Linked DNA regions of Homo sapiens. The protein of the gene in region 4 purifies or fractionates together with the protein of the main gene of each other region. This does not show direct contact. Each region holds a gene or a part of one and is shown on either strand. Other genes may lie near its edges. The genes, in order: BMP2K, HIP1R, PIK3C2A, WNK3, REPS1 and STON2.

What was found.
Region 1: the proteins of WNK3 (region 4) and BMP2K purify together in Homo sapiens (affinity purification with mass spectrometry; one large-scale study listed by BioGRID and IntAct). This does not show direct contact.
Region 2: the proteins of WNK3 (region 4) and HIP1R purify together in Homo sapiens (affinity purification with mass spectrometry; one large-scale study listed by BioGRID and IntAct). This does not show direct contact.
Region 3: the proteins of WNK3 (region 4) and PIK3C2A purify together in Homo sapiens (affinity purification with mass spectrometry; one large-scale study listed by BioGRID and IntAct). This does not show direct contact.
Region 5: the proteins of WNK3 (region 4) and REPS1 purify together in Homo sapiens (affinity purification with mass spectrometry; one large-scale study listed by BioGRID and IntAct). This does not show direct contact.
Region 6: the proteins of WNK3 (region 4) and STON2 purify together in Homo sapiens (affinity purification with mass spectrometry; one large-scale study listed by BioGRID and IntAct). This does not show direct contact.

Annotation. Positions count from the first base shown.
Region 1 is NC_000004.12:78,905,350-78,908,849, forward strand, and holds part of BMP2K (BMP-2-inducible protein kinase), read left to right. Parts: intron 1-758; exon of another isoform or gene 759-812; intron 813-3,500. UniProt on the Homo sapiens protein: May be involved in osteoblast differentiation.
Region 2 is NC_000012.12:122,838,457-122,841,956, forward strand, and holds part of HIP1R (huntingtin-interacting protein 1-related protein), read left to right. Parts: intron 1-3,500. UniProt on the Homo sapiens protein: Component of clathrin-coated pits and vesicles, that may link the endocytic machinery to the actin cytoskeleton. Binds 3-phosphoinositides (via ENTH domain).
Region 3 is NC_000011.10:17,201,487-17,204,986, forward strand, and holds part of PIK3C2A (phosphatidylinositol 4-phosphate 3-kinase C2 domain-containing subunit alpha), read right to left. Parts: intron 2,890-3,500; exon of another isoform or gene 2,821-2,889; intron 1-2,820.
Region 4 is NC_000023.11:54,197,547-54,201,046, forward strand, and holds part of WNK3 (serine/threonine-protein kinase WNK3), read right to left. Parts: intron 1,108-3,500; coding exon 778-1,107; 3' UTR 1-777.
Region 5 is NC_000006.12:138,911,754-138,915,253, forward strand, and holds part of REPS1 (ralBP1-associated Eps domain-containing protein 1), read right to left. Parts: intron 3,009-3,500; coding exon 2,944-3,008; intron 1,198-2,943; coding exon 1,012-1,197; intron 1-1,011. UniProt on the Homo sapiens protein: May coordinate the cellular actions of activated EGF receptors and Ral-GTPases.
Region 6 is NC_000014.9:81,281,825-81,285,324, reverse strand, and holds part of STON2 (stonin-2), read left to right. Parts: intron 1-3,500. UniProt on the Homo sapiens protein: Adapter protein involved in endocytic machinery. Involved in the synaptic vesicle recycling. May facilitate clathrin-coated vesicle uncoating.

The DNA.
Region 1 (3,500 bases), on a different chromosome or scaffold from region 4:
TTGACTAGAAACCATCAAAATATCATTCTACCATATTTAGTTAAAGAAAAAGAAGAAATACATTACTTAGAGCCAAAAATAAAAACAGTGGGTGAATATATGAAATTTCACAGTATACTAAAATAATGTAAATGAGTTATGATTCTGTGCACCATCTACACAGTTTTTAATGCTGTAAATACATGTTGTTAGTGCTTATTCTAAATATTATACCCCCATCTCCCACCTACTTGAAGAACAGCTATTTTTATGTTAATAATACAGATCTCAGTAAATATGGGGATTATTAGGATTTAGGGTATATTGAATTATAAAGCAACATATTTAGGCTTATACTTTTGGGAAATTAACTTTAGCAGTGAAATAATCCTGATTAAATTTCATAGTAAATCAAATGTGTATTATTTAATCTAACAACTAGTGGGAATCTGGCCCCAGACACAAATAGTGGGAAGATCTGAAATTTTTTTTTTTAAATTATAGGAATATGTTTAGGCAAAGAAATGGAGTATGAAGGTTTATGGCATTCTTAGCTAGAGGTCACATTCTAAAGTGCTGTGCATTGTATAGTTATAACCAACTTTATAACTTAAAATACTTATTCTGACAGTCTTTTATGTCTATGGAATAGGACTGAAAGCCTTAGAATATACTGAAATACTTTTTATTTTTGTGTAATTCACCTTTCTTTCCCAGCTCTTCTGTAGTTTCATGATGAATAGATGATTAAGTAGATCACTGCTACTGCAGAAACTTACCTTGGATTGTGGTAACTTGCAGCCTGGAACCTAACTTTTCCTCAGCAGGAGGTACTGGAGAGATAAAAGGATTAATAGTTTGTCTTAGTATGCTTTCAGAGAGCCTCATTACTGCTCTTTACTTTTTATAAGTTTATAACAGCAGTAAAAGTGTAGAGTGAAATATTTAAACAATGTCAGTGTGGGTTGCAAGAATATGGGAGAAAACAGGAATTTGGATAAATATTTTTGATTGTTATTTTAGTTTTATGTAGGGGGGCAAAATAAGTAAAACCAGTCTATCTACACCAACAGAAAATTTCCCCAGTTGCCCGTACTATTTGCAGATGTAACCTGAAAGCACAAAGGTGGTATAGATGATTGTGTCTTTTCTTGCTCTTTTTGAAAGTGTGTTTCCATTTCTTATACTGTGTTCTCAAATATAGCTGTCTAAAAATCAAAAATAGAATTTCCAGGATCTAAAATGTACCCTTATGCTGTGTGGATATACATTTGTTGGTCTACTTACTTCTGGTCAGTTCTGAAGTGGATCTCAGCTCCTCTTGAATTAGCCATAGACTTGCTTCTCCCTACACTTCTCCCTCATTTATATTCACCTGCAACCACTGGGCCCAGAAAAGTTACTAGAAGCTTATTGGGTATGATGGATAAAATAATTGAATTTGGCCATTCCCAGGACATGATGATGGTAGAGTGCTTATTATGTGTTCAGGCACCGTTCTAAGTCCTTTCTTCACAATAGCTCTATGATATAAAATGTGTTATCCCATTTTGTGTATAAAGAAAGTGGAATAGTGGTGACCTTGTCAGGATTATTATTGGGTTAGCTTTAGTAGCTGTGTTAATTACCCATGAGGAGGGAATCATAGTATATAAATAAAGTGAAATTGATACTAAAAAAGGAGGGTTTCCTTTTTACTCCTTGAAGGAAAAAGTGCATGAATCATGGTTGTATCTAAAATGCCGAAAAACTAGAAACAACCTAAATATTCTATTGCTAAATAGTGAACAGTTATATATGGAATATTTTATCATATTTCTATCAGAATAAATAATAGACTGTTGATACCTGAAAAGATGCATTAAAAATAGTAAGTTAAAAACCCACAGATTTATACCCACACTGACAATTATAAATGTGTATTTCTATTAATACAACTTTGATAAATGGACAAAGGGCCAACAGAATGAGAAGTATAAAGTGACAGATGTCTTCTGAAAAGTAATGGTAGCCAGTTGAATAATGAAAACAGTAAATTTTAAGAAGACTAGGGAGTACAATGTAATAATTTTAAAAAGAAGGCGAATTTAAATTCACTTCCAAGTGACACTCTCCAAGATGAATTATCTGTCCTACGTTAAATGTTCCAGAAGACCTTCAGGAACACAACTAGAAATGGAAAATTTCAAGATAAGTTGTATAGCAGCATTTCCCCAAAGTACTTTTGCATAGTTGGTTTTAAAGGTTAACAGGCATTACATGTAAATAAAAGGGTAGTGAAGACAATTTGGGAAATCCTAGGGTTCATAAAATTAGATTCTTTTGTGTAGGACTCATTAGCACCTTTAATGAGCATACTCCAGGTGAGTAGGAGTGGAGGCAGAATGCAGAGTGCACCATTTCATAGACTTGTTTGCTTGAGACCACAGAACTGTTTGTCTTGGTTCTTGTTAGGGAAATAGCCTCTGCAGAATACACTTTGGGCAACATTGGAATGTTACTTGGAGGTGTCCGTGAGCAGGCGTGAGGTGTGAATGTTGTGGCTGTGGGTGGGTATGCAGCTCGAGGAGTAATACGTTAAACGTTTCACAGTCAGGGATGATGGGAAATCTTCTGGAACCGTACATATTTTATTTTCATTTTTCCCTTCTTCCCATATTTTGCTTTTGAATAAAAATTCATAAAAATAAATTCACTAAAATTAACTTTGTTTTTAATATCATAAATACGCTGTGTAGGGAAGAAGTCAAACTTGAGAATCTGCATTTGATTTGCTTTTAATCTGGAAGGATAACAAATACAGCATGTAGCTCTTGGCTGGTTTTAAGGAACTGACAGAAGATTATATTTGCAATTAAGTATAACCTGGTGGTATTCTTCACATACTTGTCTCCCACACATTCTTTAGCACCACTACTCATGTCAACATTGCCAACAAACTATACAAGATGACCAGATCCAGTGGCCATTTTATGTCCTTAGTTTACTGGACCTCTTTGCACCATCCAGCTCAGTTGTCTGTTACCTCCCTCAAACATTCTTCTCTCTCCATTTCTGTGACATTGCACTCAGCTGTTTTCTTCCTCCTCTCTGGCTGTTACTTTGTAGTTTGTTTTGTATGTTCATCTTCCTCTGCTGACTTCTGAATGTTTTATACTGAGGGCTCAGTTTTGGATCTTCTTTTCTTCTATGTTTTCTTCCGAGGTATGCCCTTTAGTCTTGTGGCTCTCTCTGCATACCAACTGCATGGTGATAACTCCCAAATCTATTTTCTTCAGCCAAAAACTAACCATTGGTTTCAAATCACAGATACCTAACTGCTGTACACTTAAATGTTGTCTCACACATATGTCAAGCTTAATGTCTCCAAACAAAATTTTTAGTACTCCTCTTCACTTTCCAACTTACTCATTTTTTAAAAAATTATGCTCATTAAAATTTGTGTGTGGGTACATAGTAGGTATATACATTTATGGGGTACATGAGATATGTTGATACAGGTATACAGTGCATAATAATCA
Region 2 (3,500 bases), on a different chromosome or scaffold from region 4:
GAGGGTGTGGTATCATAAAGGCACTAGTAGGTAGATAGACCTAGGCTCTAGCCTGTGTCCCTGGCAAGTTGCTTAACTTGTAAATCTATGTCCTTGTCTGAAAAAAAAACCATACAGATCGTTCCAGCTATCGTATAGGGCTGTTGTAAGGTGTAAGAGAGAGACCGTGTGGCAGCTAGAACCTGTGACTACGTTAATGACTTAGTAAGGCGTTGCAGGTGGAATTAGAGTTTTTCATCAGCTGAGATGGTCCTTGAGATGGGGCGATTCTCCTGGGCTACCAGGTGGGCTCAGTGTAATCACAAAGGTCTTTAAATGTGGACAAGGGAGGCAGGAGAGGAGGTCGGACTGAGTCCATGTGAGAAAGACTCACTGCCTGCTGCTGGGGAGGAGCCACTAGCCAAGGAGTATGGGCATCCTCCACAGCCTGGAAAAGGCGAGGAAATGGATTCTTCCCTAGAGCCTCCAGGAGGAAACACAGCCTTTCTGACACTTTGCTTTTAGTCCTGTGAGACCTGTTTTAGACTTCCGACCTCCAGAACTGCGAGTTTGTGTGATTTGTTATGGCAGCCATAAGGAACTAATACATCCAGTATGTAAACATGAAAGAGCACCTAGGGCATAGAAGGGCCTCAGCAGATACTTGGCCCAACCGTCTTTCTCCCTTCCCTTCCTCGGCTGAAAAGTTTAACATCTAGAGAAGAAAGCATCTTTGAAGCATATCATGAAGAAGGACTCAGTTAGGAGTACTGGAAATGCTAATGGTGAGTCCTGCCTTTTCCTGATCTGTGAACCTTTCTGCTTCACTGGGCCTCAGTTTCCACTGCAGGCCCACAGGATGGAGATCAAGCCCAGAAGATTCCTCTCAGGTTAGGATGAGAGAAACCCTTTACTACACTGCAAGGCCTCTGGCCACTGCTGAGTGAGCCAAGTCTGGCGGGTGAGCATTAACTGTAGACATGAAACTACCCAGGTGTAAGGGGTTCCTGTGGGGCAGGGACTGTCTAGGGCAGCAATATGTGGAAACAGTTCATAGGTCCAATTTTCCAGGTTGGTGACATACATGCTTAGCATCCCCCGTGAAACCAAAATCCTGTCAAGATTAACATTTATTGACAACTGAGGGCTTCTCAGCCCCGGCACACAGTAGAGCAGTGTTGTCCAGGAGGAACCAGAGGCAAGCCACGTGTGTACTTTTAGATTGTCTAGTAACTACTAGAAAAGTCAACAGAAACAGGTGCGATTAACTGTAATAGCATATTTTATTTAACCCAGTATATCCAAAAGCTAGCCCTTTCAACATGTAATTGCCACAAAAATTATGAATAGGAGAATTTACATTCTTTTTCTCCTACTAAATCTTTGAAATAGGTATGCACTGGACACTCACAGCTGATCTCAGTCTGGACTCACCACCTTTCCAATACTCACAGCCCGCACCGGCCAGCGGCTACCGTGCCGGACAATGCAAGTGTTAGAATCACCTGGTGGCTTTTAGAAAAGGGCAACATTTACGTGTATAGGAGTGATTTGCCCGCAGCATGGCATGGGCGTTGAGCTCGTTGTTCCTGGGCATGCGCACTGCTGTCTCGCCCCGTGACATCCTCTGCTCGGTTCCACCCCATCAGCCCACATGGTGATGCCCTCGTGGTGATGCCCGGCAGGCCGCTGACTTCCCGACCCCTGGGCTGCATATTGCCTCCCTGGCAGAGCTATTCCAGAGGCTGTTCTTGGTCCAGGTTGGGGTGGGAAGGGGCCACCCATCCTTGACCTCCCCCTCCCTGTCTCTGATGTGTTTTGATGCCCATGACACATTCCTGAGCGCCGCTTGCTGTCTTACCATTTGGCCTGTTCCTGTAGCTTTGGGGTGTGCCCCAGGAAGGTCCGAGTCATCTTTGTACCCTCTAAGAGGTGGAGAGATGCCAACTGTGGCCACGTGTGGAATGGTAGGGCAGTCAAGAGCAAGCTCCAGGTTCAGCCCCTGGCTCTGTCCCTTCACCACTCTGCCTCAGTTTCCTTATCTACAAAATGGGGGCAATAATACTACACACCTCCTGGAGTGGTTGTGAAGAAATTTACAGGTGTTCATAGTGCCTGGTGTGTAGTGAATGCCGTGTAAGTGTTGGCTGTTATGTTGTGTTCAGAAGAGCAGGCTGGGCTGAAAGAGAGAAACAAGCTCCCTGTTGAGCTCTGCCCGGTGCCCTTAGATTAGCTGTAAGCGGAGGCCTTGTGTGCTGGGGCGGTTGGGGAGAAAAGTGGATCTGCACAGAGGTTGGGGGGACTCAGGCAGGTGGGGACAGCCCTTCCCTGGAAGAGTGAGCCCAGAGGTGCCACATTATGAAGGCTCTCCAGGGTTGGGAGGATATTCTGGGGGACGACAGCCTCAGGAGGTGCAGACAAAGCCAGCAGGAGCCTTGCCTGGCAGAACTGCTCACCCTCTGAATAGGGACAGGCGCAGACGAGGCCCCTTCTCTGACCTGATCCAGAAGCCAGCCTCCCAGCCAGCGCTGCACCGGTCATTCGCGAATGAAACCCAGCTGGCCACTGGATCCCAGCAGCTTAAAGTGGAAAGCCTCTGAGTGGAGTCCAGGCCTGCTTGGCCAAGGGACAGGGATACCCAGCCGGCTAACCTGAGACGCCTTGGCTGCTCTGTTGGCAATGCCCTTACCCGCCCCCTCCCCGCCCAACTTGGTAATCTGCGATGCTAACTTGAATATCACCTCCTCTGTGCAGCCACCCGCTGCCGTCCTCCTGCCCAAGCCTCTCTGTGCTGCCCAGTCCTCATGACATTATTTGCGCTGCTTCCACATCTGCCCTGACACGCTGTGGCTGGCCCAGCAGAGCGGGAGGAAGCAGACAGACATGGGGTGGGCGCATGTGTAGACCAGGCTCGCCTGAGAAGTGGGAGTGTGTCATCTCCTTGCCGAGTTCCCTGAGCAACTGCTCAGACCTGCACCAGCCACCTACCCTGGGGTCATCAGGCAGGGCCGCGTCGTAAGTGGCTGGATGAGTGGATGCTCAGGGGCCAGTGGTCTCCCTTCTTTGATGCTGTCTTCTTGGTGAGGTCTGAAAGGCTCATGGCCATCCATTCTAGGGAATGACTGAGGCCTGGAGAAAAGTTTATTTGGGGCGAGATTGTTTTTTCTCTGGCTAAAATAAACATGATCCTCAAACTGCAGTAGGTTCATCTGCTTGGAGGTGACTCAGGCTCCTGGCTTTTGGGACAGACGGGTTTGTGGAGTGATGTCACCAGGGCCCAGGGAATGAAACTGCACGACCTGGCTGCCTGTCACTTCCAGAGCCAGCCTGGCAGAGGGGTGACGCAGGAACAGTCCTCCTACTACTGGGTGTCACCCACAAAGCCTGGGGCGGAGGTGGCAGTGGGTCAGGCGGCAACATTGTAACCAGTGTCCTGGGGAACCTGGGCTCTCATGCTCCCCTCGGGAGCTTTCCTAAACGCTGAAATGACGGAGTGGCCAGGACCAAGCAGGCCTGGGTGA
Region 3 (3,500 bases), on a different chromosome or scaffold from region 4:
ACTGCACTACAGCCTGGTGAAAGAACGTGACTCCGTCTCAAAAAAAAAAAAAAAAAAGAAAAAAGAAAAAAAAAAAGAAAAGCTTTCCCTAAACCTACGTTTTATGTTCCCTTAGCTAAGTTTTCCCTTAAGTTGTTCTCTGTGCATTGAAATAACACTATCCTTAACACCTCATCATCTTCTTCTTCCTATAGTAAGGATTTACAATCTAAACTCTTTACTCAAAAATCTTGTCTAATTAACTCTTATCTATTTTCCATTTGACTATATTATCCCTTACATCTTTTCTTTCCCGTAACAAATTTTTTTAAATAACTGAAGTACTTTTTGCTACATGGATTGTAGTTAGTTGGTCTCTCCTAGTTGGAATATAAACTTCCCAAAGGCAGGAAGTAACTATTTCTTTATACACTCCAAAAATCTGGTTTGTACTATGTATCTAAACACTCAAATGCCATATGAAGAGATTCAATGAAAAGAATACTGGGGCCCGGGGCGGTGGCCCACACCTGTAATCCCAGCACTTTGGGAGGCAGAGGCGGGCAGATCGCCTTAGGTCAGGAGTTCAAGACCAGCCTGGCCAAAATGGTGAAACCCCATCTCTACCAAAAATACAAAAATTATCCGGGCATGGTGGCATGCACCTGTAATCCCAGCTACTCGGGAGGCTGAGGCAAGAGAATCACTTGAACCCAGGAGGCGGAGGTTGCAGTGAGCTGAGATTGCGCCATTGTACTCCAGCCTGGGCGACAAGAGTGAGACTTCATCTCCAGAAAAAAAAAAAAAAAAGAAAGAAGGAAGAAAAGAAAAGAATACTGGGGTGGACGTGGTGGCTTATGCCTGTAATCTCAGCGCTTTAGGAGGCCAAGGTGGGCCCAGGGGTTCAAGACCAGCCTGGACAATGTGGCAAAACCCCTCCTCTACAAAAAACACAAAAATTAGCCAGGCGTGATGGCACGTGCTTGTAGTCCCAGCTACTTGGGTGGCTAAGGTGGGAGAATCACCCAAGTGTGGGAGGCAGAGGTTGCAGTAGGCTGAGATGGAGCCACTGCACTCCAGCCTGAGCGACACAGAGAGAACCTCCCTCAAAAAAAAAAAAGAACAGAACACTGGGCCTAGCATTGTTAAGACCTGAATTCAAGCAATGCTTCTAATTTATTATGCTAAGTAAGTCACAACATCTTTGGGCCTCAGCAAAATCAGAATACTTGCTGTATTTACCTCACAGGTAATAAGGTCTTGGAGGGAAAACAGTGTTAGCTAAGCTATAACCATCAGTCAATCCAAGTGTAAAGATGTATTATTGTCAGTCATAGCTATCTTGTCTAAAATTAGCCACTAGTGTTTTTTAACCAAGCTCAGTGCACAGCAAATTAAGTGCACCAACATTGCACATCAGTCATATCAATAATGTAACTGTTATACTGTAATACTAACAGAAAGCCTTATGTTTAACAGTAAGCATGTTAATTATACACTATCTTAATGCAGTCTCAAGGTTAAAAGATAAATACTTGTTGCTAAGCCAACAATAACTGCCTTCAAATCTATTAAAAGAGGATTTATAAATCCCATTTGTTTTTGTACCCAAATAGCTAAGTTTAAAATTTTAAGAAATCCAAGAATTAGTTTAAAATTGTATAAATTCTCCTTTTAACTTTCTAAAATGTCCATATGCACTCTCATTGTGTTTTAAATCCATTACATTAGAAAAACAGACTGCAGGCCGAGTGCAGTGGCTCATGCCTGTAATCCCAGCAGTTTGGGAGGCCAAGATGGGAGGATCGCTTGAGGCCAGGAGTTCAAGACCAGCCTGGTCAACATAGTGAGACACCATCTCTATTAGAAAAAAAAAAGAAGAAAGAAAAAAAGAAATAACATACTGTAGAAAAAAAGGATACAAAGTATACATAAATGAACAAAATAAAGATAACAAAAATATGACTCCACTACAGATGCAGAGAAAACAAAGACATTTCTTCTCATCCCAACCATAATCCTATGAACAACCTGAAAGATACTTACAGCAATATTTGCAAGTATGACCATAATTCTCATCAAAAGAACATCATATATGAGTACCATCAAAATGATTACAAATTATAAATTACCAGTGATAATTTTCTCATTGGAGTCCCTTTTCCTTTTTCAAGCAGAGAACCAAGACAGAATAGCCTCTAGATCTTTTTTGTGGTGGTGGTTGTTTTTTGAGACAGTGTCTCACTCTGTTACCCAAGCTGGAGTGCAGTGGTGATCATAGCTCACTGCAGCCTCAAACTCCTAGGCTCAAGAGATCCTCCTGCTGGCAGGGTACAGTGGCTCACGCCTGTAATCCCAGCACTTTGGGAGGCCGAGGCGGGCAGATCACAAGGTCAGGAGATTGAGACCATCCTGGCTAACACCGTGAAACCCTGTCTCTACTAAAATAATATAAAAAATTAGCTGGGCGTGGTGGCGGGCGCCTGTAGTCCCAGCTACTCGGGAGGCTGAGGCAGGAGACTGGTGTGAACCTGGGAGGCGGAGCTTGCAGTGAGCGGAGATCACGCCACTGCACTCCAGCCTTGGCGACAGAGCGAGACTCCGTCTCAAAGAAAAAAAAAAAAAAGAGAGATCCTCCTGCCTCGATCCTCCAAAGCACTGGACTATGGGCATGCATTAATGCACCCAGCCTCTAGATCTATACTGTCCAATATGGCAGTTACTAGTTACATGGAGCTATTAAGTGCCTGAAATGTGGCTGTTCCAAATTGAGATGTACCAAGTGTAACATACACCAGATTTAAAAGATTTAGGGGAAAAAAATAATGTAAAATCTCCTACCTATGTGACTCCCATTTTTGGCTCACATATTTCTCATGTACAGCACTGCTTTATATATGTAGTCGAATCCTGAATAAGGAAAATGGATACCAGAAGTATTAAGCAGTTTGCTCAATATCTCACCGCTTGATAGAAGCAGAGCAGGGCCTAGAACCTGATCACGTTTATCCATCCTGCCCTTATGAATAGAAGGAATTAATCATTTAAGACTCAACTTGAGCATCCTCTTCCTCCTCAAACCCCCTCATTCCTTTTCCATCTCCCAGCCCAGGTGACCATATCCTATTTAGCCTGCCCTTATAATTATACTGTTATAAAATGTACGTTGTCTTCCAAATGGATGAGAAATTCTTGAGAGCAAGCACTGTCTCATTCATTTTTCTTATCCCTGGGAACCTTTGAAGTACCAGGCACTCTTTCAGGCCCTCCGGCACTCTCAGAGCTTTGAGAGGGTTAATTTTTAGCCCTATGCAGGTACAACTACTAAAATGAAATCACCTACAATGTGATGCACCACCAGAAACATCCACATTTATCATTTGCCTGTCTTAAATTATTTTTGGAATATGCTAAATTAATACAATGCATAGGCCAGGCGCAGTGGCTCACACCTGTAATCCCAGTACTTTGGGAGGGCGAGGCGGGCGGATCACTTGAGGTCAGGAGTTCAAGACCAGCTT
Region 4 (3,500 bases):
AACCCCATCCTCTACTAAAAATACAAAAATTAGCCAGGCATGGTGGCTGGCGCCTGTAGTCCCAGCTACTCAGGAGGCTGAGGCAGGAGAATCGCTTGAACCCAGGAGGGGGAGGTTGCAGCAGTGAGCCAAGATCACACCACTGCACTCCAACCTGGGTGACAGAGAGAGACTCCATCTCAAAAAAAAAAAAAAAAGTGATTCTAATTTTATACACCAAAACGTTTCCTGCAGCAAGTTACCCTGCCTTCTGTGAAAGGTAAACCTAAGACAAACATGTGAAGTGAAGATCCCATAAGACTCTGGCTGATGGAGGGTCTCAGTTCATCCACATTTGGGGAGAATCAATCTAAATAATTTTTAAACATTTTTAAAGAAGAGTATCCAGCTGCAGATAGCAGCAGTTAAAAAAAAAAAAAAAAAAGGCGGGGGATGGGGAGCTTCTCAACAATTCATGGAAAGTGTCCTGGAAATGGTAATGCTCAAGCTGAGCTTATTAAAGCATTCTGAACAGTATTTTTAAAAAATCAAGTATCAAAGAGGATAGAATTTGAAGTGAAAAAACATTTCTGTGTGCAGTGTTCTATCTGCAAACTGCACATTTCTACAGAATGATGAGCTGTATCAAATACCACACTGGAACAAAAAATATATAGTCTAAAGTAAACTCAAATGAGGGAAAATATGACAGAACCCAAGAGGAAGAAACTTTAATATCTTGGGTGTCCTGAAAATAATTCTGAAAAAACCTCCCTTTTTATCACCATCTACTCTGATTCATTTAGGACCAGGAGGGATTGTGGCAGGATTCTGCACTGATGAAGTTGGAAATGCCTGCATATTCATCCCTGGCTGGAATGGTCCCCCAGATTGGGCGGGAATTACTACAGATTGTTGTGTTGTTCCTGAAATTCCTACCCACTGTACTGGATACCCCGCCCCCGCCACAGCATTATACTGACAAACGTGAGGCATTCCATATGATGATAATGGCCCAGGAAATGAAGGGAGTGAGAGTCCTTGTGGCAAGGAAGTTGGGACAGCTCCACGGATTTGGGACAGAGAAGAAATCCATGTTGATGTGTAGCCCATAGTAGACGGAGTATTCTAAGAAAAACAAAAATAAAAACAAAAGATCAGTTTATTTGGTATAGACTTTTATCAGTCTATATTCCTTCCTATTCTTTTTTTTTCTATTGCTGCTGCACAAATGAATATTCCTTCCTAGTCTTTTTGGCATACTATTCCTATTGTTACTATTAGGGACTACCATTTTTGGAGCACCTTTCTGTGTGCTAACCATAATTATGTACCTTAATTAATGCCATCTTCATAACTGCCCTGCCTTACATTTTTATAGTTATTTCCATGCATACATACATAGAAAGATATTTGACATGATGTTTATCTAAAGTTAATGAAAATTATTTCTGGGTGGTGGGATTTGAAGGTGATATTTTAAATTTTGTACTTTTCTGCACTGATTAAATTATATAATGAACATTATTAGTTTATAGATAACCTGATTTTTAAAAAAAGACAAATTGGAGAGGTTATACATTTTCTCCTGGATATTTCAAAGGCATCTCAGAAACAAATGCCTAGAAATCAAATGTGTGATCTTCCCCTACCAAAGCACACTGTCTGCTCACATTCCGCATCTCGGTGATTGGTACACTAGAATAGCATCCAGTTATGGGAGCCAGAAACCTAGCCTTAATACCTCCCCTTCACCATACATCCATTCCATCACCAAATCTTGTCCATTTAATCTCTTAAGCATTTTTTGGAATCTGTTCACTTCTGTTCAACTCAACTTCTCCCATTTTCCAGACCAGTTAAGAGTTACCATGACTAACTCTTAACTGGTCTGCCAACATCTACCCTTACCTCCAATAAATAATCCTTTTCTCTTGCTTGAGTCAGAGTCATTTTTTCAAAAAACAAGTCTGATCATGTCAACCCTAGGGCTTAAATGGCTATTTATCTTTCTTCAAATACAGACGGCTGGGCGCGGTGGCTCACGCCTGTAATCCCAGCACTTTGGGAGGCCAAGGCGGGTGGATCAGCTGAGGTCAGGAGTTCAAGACCAGCCTGGCCAACATGGTGAAACCCTGTCTCTACTAAAAACTCAAAAATTAGCCAGGTATGGTCGCGAGCGCCTGTAATCTCGGCTACTCAGGAGGCTGAGGCAGCAGAATTGTTGAACCTGGGAGGCATAGGCTGCAGTGAGCAGAGATCGCGCCATTGCACTCCAGCCTGGGCAACAAGAGTGAAACTCCGTCTCAAAAAAAATAAAAACAAACAAACTAACAAAAAATACAGATGAAGTTCCTTATCATTACCACTTTTAAGACTCCATCTACCTTAGATCCATTGTGCACTAACTCCTCTTTGCTCTCTTCACTTCAGCCAAACTGGCCTACTTTCAATCCCTTCACGCTCCTTTCCTCATACAGGGCTTTTGCGTATGCGATCCTTTCCGCATGGAATCATTTCCTCTTTTCACCTAGTTAACACCTACTCATCCTTCAGATCTCTGCTTAATCATCACTTTCTCAGTGAAGCTTTCCTTGACTTTCCTTTACTAGGTCAAATTTCCCGTATTATAGCCTATATCTTTCTTTTGTAGTTCTTATTACGGTTGCAATTTTATATTCGTATATGCAATTCTGTTATGTCTAACTAGCTGTCTTAGCAGAGCATAAATTCCATGAGGATAGGGATCATACTTGTTTTTACTCACCAAACCCATGTCTAACAGAGGGCTTGGTACATAACTGTTAAGCAAACAAGTATTTCTGAGTAAGGATACAGAGCAATACAATGTAAGAGCATTAGTGAGATGGGCTTGCCACACAAAAGATATAACCAACTGAACCTACAAATACAAAAATAGTTACTAGATATAGGGTACCTACTATGTAACACCTATAAAGGTACAGCTTTATAGGTGTTATCTCATTTAATCCTCACAGCAATCCTGTAAGGCAGGTATTCTGTTTGAAAGACATGAAAACTGAGGCACAGATAGATCAAATGACTTTTCTAAAGTCACACAACTAGTAAGTGACTGAGCTGACATTGGAACCCAAGTCTGTTAAATGACGTTCACTACTTTTATTCACACACCATTTTCTACTCACCCTTCCTCCAAACATCCTCCATTATACTCCAGTAAACAGCCCTCCAACTAGTCAACAAAAGCCTCCATTCACACAGTACTCAGAGGTTCTCTCACTGGCAGTACAAATGCATTTATGTCTTGAAATTTGCCTCTAAAGGCTTCCAATTTTTACAATGGTGATGCTATCTGTGTATAAATTGGTGCCACAAGTAAGATAAATACACAGAGCTCCCAAGGAGATATACTGCTCACTAGCTTGGGAAATCGAGGATTTTGAAAATTTTTATTCAATATTAACAATAAATGCATTATTTCTTTAACAAACTATATGACTATACATGTACACATATGACAATACATGTACACAAATGTA
Region 5 (3,500 bases), on a different chromosome or scaffold from region 4:
GAGGAGGATGGGGTGAGGATGCAGGTAGTAGATGTGTGAGGGAGAGGAGGAGGGGACGAGGATGCAGCTATGTAATAGATGTGTGAGGGAGAGGAGGACAGGCGAGGATGCAGGTCATAAATGTGTGAGGGAGAGGAGGACGGGGTGAGGATGCAGCCACTGCACCGAACCTCTAAGTGGTTAGTCTGGGAAGTCTTCGTGGTTGGGAGAAGGGAGGCATCCACCCAGGGGAGTGAGTACGGTACCCTGTGCACACCTCTACATGCCCACTCTGACCCTCCTAGATGCAGCCCAGTCCCCTAATGGGCACGGCAGAAAGTTGTAGGTTTTAAAAGGGAGCTAGTAGGAAATTTTCCATGGCTATGACCTATAAGAAAGAGATTGCAGAATTCCTCTGGTCTCTCCAACTCCACATTTATGCTCAGCAATTTAGGTCAGAGATTCCTAGAGAGGTTCTTGCCATTGGAACTACAATAGAATATCCTAGAACACTGTGAATATTAAATTTTGGTATCCTATAGTCTTTGCTTAACTAAGGCAACTTACTCTCATACAAATTTTAAATGCTTTAATTAGAAGTTTGGCTGAAATTTGTTTTTAGTTAAAGTTGTAATTAGATCTAAAAGTTACATATAGTGAAATTCCCCTTGGGGAAAAGTTGCAATGAGTGGAGCTATGGTAACCATGGCCTCTTATGACAGGGAAATCTTCACCAAATCACACAGACAGATGCTTAGCATTAAGATGGAAACCCCCAAAGCAGCGTTTTAGCCACGGCCAGGCGGTGGTGTCTTTGCATGTGATATCAATCCCCCACCCCCACCAGACTCTGATACTTAGTAAGCATTACACTGCAACCAGCAGATATTGGAGGCCAATAAAAAAGATGAGAAGCACTGACCCAGGGAATATTTTACTCACTGATGTCCCCTCTAATATCTGCTCTGTTGACACAACATGGTATGGGAAGTGACTGCCTGCAGAAAATTAGCCAAGCCCTCGAAAACTGACCGGCAGGACTTCTGGATGTTTCTCGGCTTCATCATCTTGTTCGTCGTTTACATTTGATGCAGCAAATACTTCAAACTGACTGAAATCTGCAAAATTTGGTTGCTCTGGTATCTGCTGAGGTGAGGTACTAGTGTGAGTTATGAGGCCATCGGCATCCACTGGGCGATGCACAGCAGGACCAGGAGCCTGTGCAATGGTTCAGAACAGAGGAACACACATTCTATCAGCCTATCAGTGTCACAGAGTCATCTTCTTCTTCTTCGAAAACTTAGTATATAAAGATGACCTGTTTTATTATCTGTAAGTTCAGAGAGGTGTATTATAGTAACATTTAGCTCTAAAGAAATGATTAAACCATAAGTGAAAAGCTAAGACACTAAAAAAAAAATTAAGATGATAAACCTCCAATAAAAAGATATTTTTTTTCAAAAACTGTATTGCAAAGAAAGTACAATGAAGGAGAGGGTAGGTCTGGCCCTACCCCCATTCTCCACTTGCATGTGTTTTTTTCTTAATTGGACTAATGCACAATAGTTTCTTCCTTAAATAAGTTATTTTTTTTTAATGTTTCACTGTTTCTTAAAAAGCTTGCTCTAAAAAGTGTGAAAACCACTGCTCTATCCTCCCAACATGTCAGGAACACTTCCCTTCAATTCATCTTCCACTCCTTTGCCAGCCAGACCAATGCTGCTCCATCTTCAGTCTAAAAATATGTTTACTGAATATGTACTTGTGAACAAAACAAATGAGGCCCACTTATACTCTAATAAAGCTGACAGTCCGGAGCAGGAGAAGAGAATAAGTAAATAAGAAATTAAAATAGAGTGTGAGATGTTTTATGACAAAGGAAGTAAAGGATACTAAAGAAAGAAATCTGAAGTCTCTTCCCTTTAAAAATTCTTCATCTCCTCTAAGAAAAAGTCTATCCTTCTTACTACGATATGGACAGCTTCATTTCTCATCACTCCACACATCTACTCCTGTTGTGCTGAACTAACTTGTTTTCCCCTGAGGAATGTGCCAGGCTTAACACAAACCTCCATCGCTTTGTGGATGTCATACCTTCGGTTTGGAATACCTTTTCCCCAATAAATTCCACTTTATCTTTCAAGTCCCTGCTAAGTCTCATTCCTTCATTTCATGTATAATGTGATCCTTAACTTTAGCCACTAAGGCTGTCCCAAAGCATTTTATAAATGTCTACTACAGCACTCTAATTTTGATGTGGAAGGGATGCAGAGGTCATTATACTTCCTTAACTCATGTGGTAAACACATCCAGAGAGATGCAGTGAGGTTATTTAGGGGTATTTTGTTTTGTTTTGAGACAGGGTCTCACTCTGTCATCCAGGCTGGAGTGCAGTGGTGCAATTACAGCTCACTGCAGCCTTGATCTCCCAGGCTCAAGAGATCCTCCCACCTCAGCCTCCCAAGTAGCTGGGACTACAGGTGCACACCACCACACCCAGCTAATTTTTTTGTTTTGTTTTTAGAGATGGGGGTCTCACTATGTTGTCCAGGCTGGTCTGGAACTCCTGGGCTTGAGAAATCCTACTGCCTTAGCCTCCCAAAGTGCTGCAATTACAGGTGTGAACCACTGCACCCAGCCTGGTGAAGTGATTTTGTGAGTCACTGCTAGACCCAGGACATTAATGGATATTTCCTATCTCCCAATCCATTGTTGTTTCCACTAAACTCTTCTCTGTCAAGACATTATCATTTGTTTCACTTTTAAGGCTCTTTCAAAAAATAACTCAGATCATTCTTGAAATGTGCATCTTTCAAAATGAGATTCAGCCTCACTGAATTAAATGCTCATTAAAGATTACCAACAGATCATTCCTGACCTTCCAAATAATTTGAGAATAGAATTAAATACCTAGCAGGCAAAGTGATCATGGGACATTTAGTAATAAATACCTTGGAGAATTACCTGTGAGGGCTGTGGTCTTGGAGGCACTGCAGGAGGATGGGCAACAACTCCAGCCTGTTGTTGTCCTGCATGAATACAAAAGTTCTTCTTTTTAGTAACTGTATAATCACTTTGTTAATAGAAGAAATAGGCTGAATGAATGTGACTACATGATAAAGATTTCTAAGAATGTTTGTTAAGTATTAGAAGGCAAGTACTAACTTGTTACATGGTCTGTATGTAACCTAAAGACCAAATCTCACAGCCTTTCATCAGATCTCACTTTGCTTCTTACCTCTATTACATGAAGCCCTCCTGGCATACTCCTGCCTATTCCCATAATAGCAAACAATCTTGATTTTCTTCGTGTATCTCTGACTGCTGTTTAGGTATCAAATGAAAACTTCCAAATTTTCCCTTTCACTTAACACTTCACTTTTCCTCACCATTCTAAACTCACAGTGACTAAAACATAACTTCATCATCCTCTGCCCTAACTTTTCTATTTTAACCAAGGTAACAACAATACTGCCAGTTCTTCAAAAATTAAAAACCTGGGTAAGTTATGACTCTTCTTC
Region 6 (3,500 bases), on a different chromosome or scaffold from region 4:
ACTCCTGTGAATGTTAACTTCTCTCATGAATCACAGATGTTTGTAATGGCATCTAGAATGATGAATCCTTTCCAGGAGGTTGTCAGTTTACTTTGCCCCAATCCATCAGAGGAATTACTATCTATGGCAGCCTTACAAAATGTATTTCTTAAATAAGAAGACTTGAAAATCACAATTACTCCTTGATCCATGGGATAGAGAATGGATGTTGTGTTCCACGGCTGCAGGCATGAAAACAACATTAATCTCCTTGTACATCTCTATCAGTGCTCTTGGGTGGCCAGGTGCATTGTCAGTGCGTAGTAATATTTTTGGAAGGAACCTCTTTTTTCTGAGCGGTAGGTCTCAACCTGGGCTTACAATATTCAGTAATTCCTGCTGTAAACAGATGCGTTGTCATCCGGGCTTTGTTCTTCCATTGACAGAGCACAGGCAAGGTAGATTTGCATAATTCTTAAGGGTGCTAAGATTTTTTGAATGGTTAATGAGCAATGGCTTCAACTTAAAGTCACCAGCCACATTGGCCACTAGCAAGAGAGTCAGCCTGTCCTTTGAAGTTTTGAAGCCAGGCATTGACTTTTCTCTAGCTATTAACATCCTAGATGGCATCTTCTTCCAGTAAAAGGCTGTTTTATCTTCAGTGAAAATCTGTTGCTTAGTGTAGCCACCTTCCTCAATTATATTAGGTAAATATTTTGGATAACTTGTTGCAGCTTCTACATTAGCACTTGCTGTTTGACCTTCTACTTTTATGCTATGGAAATGGCTTCTTTCCTTAAACCTCATGAACCAACCTCTGCTAGCTTTATTTATTTATTTATTTTTTCTGCAATTTCCTCACCTCTTTCCACTTTCATAGAATTGATGAGAGGTAGGGCCTTCCTCTGAATTAGGCTCTGGCTTAAGAGAATGTTGTCACTACTTTCTTATCATTCATGTGTTCACTGAAGTGGCACTTTTAATTTCCTTTGAGAAGTTTTCCTTTGCATTCACAACTGGGTTAACTGGCATGGAAGGCCTAGCTTTTGGCCTGTCTCCGCTTTTGACATGCCTTGTTCACTAAGCTTACTCATCTCTCACTCTTGATTGAAAGTAAGAGACATATAACTCTTCATCTGAATACTTAGAGGCCATAGTGGGATTCTTAATTGGCCTAATTTCAATATTGCTTTGTCTCAGGGAATAAGGAGGCCTGAAGAAGAGAGAGAGAGAGATAGGGGAATGGCCAGACTGTGGAGCAGCCCAGAACACACACATTTTATTGATTAAGTTTACCATCTTATATGGGCACAGTTTATGGTGCCCCAAAACAGTTACAATAGTATCATCAAAGATCACAGATCACTGTAACAGATATAATTATAGTGAAAATGTTTGAATGTTGCGAGAATTACCAAAACGTGACCCAGAGACAGAGTGAGCACGTGCTGTTGTAAAGATGGTGCTGACAGACTTTGGGTTGCCACAGATCTTCTAGTCATAAAAAATGCAGTATCTGCTGGGTACAGTGGCTCACGCCTGTAATCCCAGCACTCTGGGAGGCCGAGGCGGGCGGATCATGAGGTCAGGAGATCGAGACCATCCTGGCTAACACAGTGAAACCCCGTCTCTACTAAAAATACAAAAATTAGCCGGGCGTGGTGGCAGGCACCTGTAGTCCCAGCTACTCAGGAGGCTGAGGCAGGAGAATGGCTTGAACCCGGGAGGCGGAACTTGCAGTGAGCCGAGATAGCGCCACTGCATTCCAGCTTGGGCAACACAGCGAGACTCCATCTCAAAAAAAAAAAAAAAAAATGCAGTATCTGTAAAGTGCAGTACAAAAAGACGAGGTATGCCTTTATATGCTGTTATGTAACAGTCACTGCTCTTGCATGTTTAGAAGCCTGCAGTGATGTTAGAACATTTGTTCTTGCCACTCCTAATAAATTCCAGTGAACATTTGTCAATATGGTTTTTTTACAAATTAGGTTAACAAATAAGGGAAAGAAGATAGTAGAGTCTCTATGTTCAAAATGTAGACAATTTTCCTGCCATAGTTCTTACTTTTTATTCAGTTTTAGTGGCTTTGACTACTACTGAAATCACTTTATTTAATTTAATCTTTTAGGAGCTTGAAATAGATTGCGGCCTAACATTAAAAGAATCCACCACTTCTCTTTAGTTTGCATCAGTAAAGACACTAGGAACCTCTTAGGTACTGGAAATTTTCCCTGTGGTGTAGACTGAGAACCTAATCCTTACACATGGCTTTTGTTTGGCAGCAGCCCGACTCATAATAAAAACAATTTGGAGGTAGCCAGTGGAAGGGATAGTAATTAAAATAATGCTGGAGTTTGGGTTTTGGTTTTATTTTAATAAATTAGTAAATTGAATTGTGGAGAAGAATTAGCTTTGTGATCAAGATACTTGGTTTTTGCCTATTTCTTACTGGAGAAATTTGCCAGCTTTTCCCCCTCTCATTGTTTCCAGTCCCAGCCACACCAGTCATAATTGTCTTGGGAAAGATCTAACTGCTGCTTTCTCAATACAGACTATAGCTAAGCACTTTGTTTCCTTTCTCTAAGGCTAATTAGTAGTAATAATAAAGAGATGTTTTGAACTTTTATTATAATGCTATGTTGCTTTATTTTGTAAGGAACATTGCAGTTTTTGAAAGAAAGAATACAGATTTCGAATTTTTTAAATCACCTCTTATCCCATGAGAGATTTGTTTTCACATCAAAATATTACGAGATTATTATATTCCAAAGCTTTCTAATACATACGTACTTTCTATAATGACACATTATCATTCTAGTAGTAGTAGTAGTAGTAGCAGTAGTACTAAGAACAGCCTACATCTACTGAGCATTTATTATTTGTCTGGTAGGATTTAATATTTCCCTAATTTAATATATAGGAAAACTGAGATAGAGGGAAATTTAAGACTTGCCTAGAATCACATATCTAAAAAGCCGTAGGTATGGAATTGAAACGCAGGCAATTTGACTGCAGATTTTAGGTGTTTCTTGTTATTCACTCAACAATATGTCCTAGTCAACTTCCGTGTGAATTAACATGCATCAAGAGCATCATCTTGACAGCTACATGGAATTTCATTTTAAGGGTATGACCACTGATGTAACTAGTCTCCCATTGTTGGGCATTCAGGTTTTTTCATGTTTTTCTGTGATAGAAGCATTGCTGTAATAAACATCACTGTGTACATCGTTGCATGCTTGTCCTGTTATTTCCTTAGGATAAACTCTTAGAATTTATTTCTTACAATTCTCAGATTTCTTTAAATAAATTATTTCATAGAAAAACAAAATCTCAATTTCAGAAATTTTACCTATGCCCTGCTACCATCCCAGAGAATAAGTTTTAAAAATACATGCAATTATGGGACATGAAACTGCCAAAGGGAAGATAATTTTGTAACAAAGTCTTTTGATATTTTTTAATGACTGTCAGAAAGAAAATAGAATCCCTAGAAATTAATTGAATTCAAACATTTCCCT